2 separate regions of the Homo sapiens genome follow, and region 2 is linked to region 1. The links come from fine-mapping of genetic effects on gene expression. Tissue or cell type: whole blood. Region 1 holds a variant in brackets; the other region holds the start of a gene. All regions are shown on one strand. Distances are between the middles of the regions.

Region 1 (2,760 bases):
CTAAGCAAAGTCTACTCTGATTTATATAGACACAAAACTCGTAAACAAAATATTAGCAAATAAAATCTAGTGATACATATATATAAATTATAGCTGGGCATGGTGGCTCAAGTCTGTAATGCCAGCATTTTGGGAGGTCAAAGCAAGAGCCCAGGAGTTCAACACTGCAGTGAACTATGATCAAGTCACTGCACTACAGCCTGAGCAACAGAATGAGACCTGACTCAGAAAACACACACACACACACACACACACACACACACACACACACTAAGGCATGGCATTATGGTCAGGCGAGAATTATTCCAAGAAGACAACACATGTAAAAATCAGTGAGTGCAATTCACCACCTAGGCAAAATAGAGGAGAAAAATCATAGGATCTTCTCAAACAGAGGCAGAAAAATCGTGATAAAATTCAACATCCATCCATGATTTTTTAAAAGGCACCTACAAATGAAGAATAGATGGATACATACAAAATCCTACAGCAAACGACCTGCTTTAATGGGAAAATATTGAATGCTTTCCTCCTGGTAGCAAGTATAAGTCAAGGATGCCATCTGTTGCCACTCTTACTAAAGATGTTTTATTGGATCCTAACAGAATGCAGTGAGGCAAAATAATTAATAAAAGGTATAAATATTGGAAAGAAAGAAATAACACAATCTTTATTTCCAAGGGACATTATTTTATACATATAAAATACAAAGACTCCATAGATAGACTTATAGAATAAATTTGTTAACTATTGTAAAGCCAAAAGTTACATATTAATTTTCAAAAATCAATTGCATTTCACACTTGCAACAAAGAAGCAAATAATACAATTTTTTTAAATAATACCATTTTAATTAGCATCAAAATGAAAAAACTTCAATGCCTAGGAATAAATTTAACAGTAGATAAGCAAGTCTTCAATGTAGAATAATATAAAATATTGAGAGAAATTAACAAAGATCTCAGTGGGTGGAAGACTATGCATTACTTTCACATAAAAAGGTTCAATATTGTGAAGATAGCAGTGCTTCCCCAAAACTACCTATGTTCAATATATTCCTAATAAAAACCCAAATAAATGATTTTGTGAAAATTAACAAGTAAATCCAAAAATTTATATGGCAATGTAAAGCGCCTTAAATGTCCAAGAAAATGGAAGAAAATTAAAATATTTGAAAGACTGAATTACCAGATACCAAGATTTATTTTAAAGCTAAAATTATTAAAACTGCATGGTATTAGCACAATCATAAAGAAATATAGTATAGAGTCCAGCAAATGATCCACACGCATAGATGAACACTTATTTACAAAAACGGTGGCAATGTAAAGCAGTGGGGAAGAAGAAGAGAAGAAAGAGGGAAAGAAAGAAAGACAGGGAGAGAGGGAGGGAGAGAAGGAAGGAAGGAAGGAAGGAAGGAAGGAAGGAAAGAAGGAAGGAAGTCTTTTTAATAAATGATGTTGGGTCGATTAAACATTCAAATCAGGGGGAAAAATGAATCTTGAGTTTCTACCTCACATTATTTGCAAAAAATCA[G/C]TTCCAGATAGATTGTTGACCTAAATGTGAAAAGTGAGACAATAAGGCTTCTAGAAGATAACAAAGATTATCTTCTTTACCTTGGAGTATAGGAAAAATTTTTTAAGAATACAAAACTCACTAATCACTAAAAAGGAGACTGAGTCAAACTACTTTAAAATAAGACTTTATACTCATCAAAGATATCAAGACAGTAAAAAGAGAAACCATGGAATGAAAGCAGATATTTGTAGTTCATATAACTGACCAAAGATTCATATCAAATATGTATAAATGAGAAAAAAGATAGATAATATAATAAAATTAGTACATACAAAATACCTGGATAAGCAATTTGCAAAAGAAGGTTTTCTCATAAGTACAGGCGATGTTACTCATCTAAATTAGTCACTTGGTAAATGATAATTAAAAACAGCCATGGAATACCACTAAATATATACCAAATGGCTAAAATTAAAAAAACCACAATACCAAGTATTGAGGAGGATGTGGAGCAAATAGAATTTGCATACGCTGCTAGTGGTACAGCTAAAGCTTTACTTCTCAAGCTCAACATTCCTTTGTCTCATGATGCAGCAATTTCATTATTAGATATGTACCCAACAGAAAATGCATATGTATATGTGCCAAAAATACTACAAGAATGTTCATAACAGAAAAAAGCACAGTAGTCAAAATCTGGAAATAATCCTTGATGTGGCTTAACAATAAAATGTATTCTTTTTTAAAAAAAATATGGACGCGTAGTTGCTCTTTAACAATGAAAATGAATGAAATAATGTTACATGCAAAAACATAGATGCATTTCACAAACATAGTATTGAGAAAAGAAGCCAAAAACAAAGAATTCACTGTGTGGTTACATTTATATGAAGTTTAAATACAGGGAAAACTGATCTATGATGTTGCAAGCCCTGCCAGTGGTTACCACTGAAGGCATGGGAGGAGTGGGAGCAATTAGGGGAAGAAGGGGTACTTCCCTGCTATCTCTTGATCTGGGTGGCGAGCACTCAAATGTGCTGACATTGTGATAACTCATCTGGTTGCACTCTGTGATTTGTGCATTTTTCTGTGTAAACAATATACTTAAATAATAAAAGTTCATTTTTAAATGTTCCACACTAAAAATTTACTGGTACAGGTGATTTGACACTAATTATTTTCACAGTTCCATTATTATTATCGTTATTATTTTATGATGGAGTTTTTGCTCTTGTTGCCCAG
Region 2 (2,500 bases), 170 kb before region 1:
ATTCATTCTTTCTAACTGCAAATAACATCTTAATGTACTAGTGAAAAATTTCCCCACTGTACATTGGATTATGCAGTGTCATCTTTGCTGGGGAGAGAGAAGCTAATGTCATGGAAGGACTATTGTATGCTAGGCTCTATGCTAAATGCTTATAGCTGCCACACTATCTTATCCTCCCAACAGTCCTGAAGCAAGGTAAGAATGTTAGGAGTTACACGTCGTCTGGTTTTTTTAAAGGTTTTGTTTTCCTGAAATATTAGAAAGTGTTTCCTATATTATCAATTGCAAACAAATGAACATGCCCGTGGATCTTTCTGGGGTCCCTCTTCAGATCTGGCTGCTCTAAGGATATTTAATCTTGAGAACAAGGCCACTAGTGTTTTCTGGGGCACGACATAAACTTCTCAAACTCCCTATTCAGTGGTATCAGGGGCGGTGTAGAACAGGGGTCAGTCAGCGTGCGGGCGATAGTGCACGCTAGCGTACAACAAAGGAAAAGCCACAAACAAGACTGTATTCCAGGAAAGGTGCTGGTTGCTCCGGCAAGCCTTACACAAAACAGGTCCTCCTCTAAGCTAGACTGGGACGTTTAAAGAAAAGGAAGGAACAGGCCCAGAGGATCTAAATCGGCTCCCTCGTTGTGGCCGTTTGAGCGGTGACCTCGGCGAAGTTCCATTCCAGTACCTAGGACCCTGGTAGGGCCCGAGGCTGAGGCTAGCAGGCCTCCTGCTGGGCTTTCTTCTCCAGCTGATTCAGCAAAAGGAAGAAGAGGGATTCCCTGCCTGTCTGGGAAGAAGAAGGGGGGCAATGTTTTGTCCAACCCATCTGCCCGTGAGACTTGAGCGGCGTCTCGAGGCCCCTGCTCCAGACAGCAGCTATACCTGGGCAGTGGGGACAAGACCAGGTGGCGCCTAAAATCCTCCACCTCTTCTGCCCACACAATGAAGGAACAACGAAGTCCTGGTTCCACCATCACAAGACTCTGTTCTTCAGCTGCCTCATCCCCAAACTCCCATCCCCCATCCTCCCATCCCTACGTTCCTCTATCCCCAGATGCGCACCAAGGTGCGCTTTCCCAAGTGCAGATTTGATCATATCTCTCCTCGCCTTTGAATCCTCCTGTGACTGGCCACGCTTTACAGCATAAAATGCATACACCTCAAATCGGAGCAGAAGGCTCTCTGCCAGCACCAGCCTTTTCTTTCTTTTTAACTTTGTCTTCATCTACCCTGGTTTGGTTCTTCTTGTTCTTCTTGTTCTTCTTCTTCTTCTTCTTCTTCTTCTTCTTCTTCTTCTTCTTCTTCTTCTTCTTCTTCTTCTTCTTGTTCTTCTTCTTCTTCTTCTTCTTCTTCTTCTTCTTCTTCCTTCTTCTTCTTCTTCTTCTTCTTCTTCTTCTTCTTCTTCTTCTTCTCTTCTTCTTCTTCTTCTTCTTCTTTCTTCTCTCTTCCTCTTCCTCTTCTTCTTCGTCTTCCTTCTTCTTTTCTTCTTCTTTTCTTCTTCTTCTTCTTTTCTTCTTCTTTTCTTCTTCTTCTTTCTTCTTCTTCCTTCTTCTTTTTCTTCTTCTTCTTTCTCTTCTTCTTCCTCTTCCTCTTCCTCTTCTTCCTCTCCCTCTTCCTCCTCCTCCTCCTCTTCCTCCTCTTCCTCCTCCTCCTCCTCCTCTTCTTCCTCCTCTTCCTCTTCTTCTTCTTCCTCTTCTTCTTCCTCTTCCTCTTCTTCCTCTTCCTCTTCCTCTTCTTTCTTCTTCTTCCTCTTCTTTCTTCTTCTTCTTCCTCTTCTTCTTCTTCTCCTTCTTTCTTCTTCTTCTTCCTCTTCCTCTTCTTCTCCTCCTCCTTCTCCTTCTCCTTCCTCTTCTCCTTCCTCTTCTCCTTCCACTTCTCCTTCCTCTTCTCCTTCCCCTTCCCCTCCTTCTCCTCCTCCTCCTCCGTCTCCTCCGTCTCCTCCATCTCCTTCATCTCCTTCTTCTTCTTCTTCTTCTCCTTCTCCTTCTCCTTCCTCTTCTCCTTCCTCTTCCCCTCCTTCTCCTCCTCCTCCGTCTCCTCCATCTCCTTCTCCTTCTCCTTCTTCTTTCTCCTTCTTCTTCTTCTTTCTTCTTCTTCTTTCTTCTTCTTCCTCTTCCTCTTCCTCTTCTTCTCCTCCTCCTCCTTCTCCTTCCTCTTCTCCTTCCACTTCTCCTTCCTCTTCTCCTTCCTCTTCTCCTTCCTCTTCCCCTCCTTCTCCTCCTCCTCCTCTGTCTCCTCTGTCTCCTCCGTCTCCTCCGTGTCCTTCGTCTCCTTCGTCTTCTTCTTCTTCTCCTTCTCCTTCCTCTTCTCCTTCCTCTTCTCCTTCCTCTTCCCCTCCTTCTCCTCCTCCTCCTCCGTCTCCTCCGTCTCCTCCGTCTCCTCCGTCTCCTTCTTCTTCTTCTTCTTCTTCTTCTTCTTCTTCTTCCTCTTCTTCTTCCTCTTCTTCTTCTTCCTCTTCTTTTTCTTTCTTTCTCTTTCGTTCTTTTTCTCTTTACTTTCCT

The links. PIP is the estimated chance that this variant, and not a neighbour inherited with it, causes the effect.
Region 2: NME8 starts here. The variant in region 1 is fine-mapped to the expression of NME8 in whole blood (TOPMed, PIP above 0.99).

The regions. Positions count from the first base shown.
Region 1 is chr7:37,675,707-37,678,466 of GRCh38, reverse strand. No RefSeq gene overlaps it. Among named protein-coding and RNA genes, the nearest start is that of GPR141, 6.7 kb to the left of the region's middle. The variant G/C (reference allele first, on the strand shown) is at 1,537.
Region 2 is chr7:37,847,110-37,849,609 of GRCh38, reverse strand. NME8 (NME/NM23 family member 8) reads right to left here and starts at 1,013. Exons shown (of 18, transcript NM_016616.5): 1 at 882-1,013; 2 at 554-786.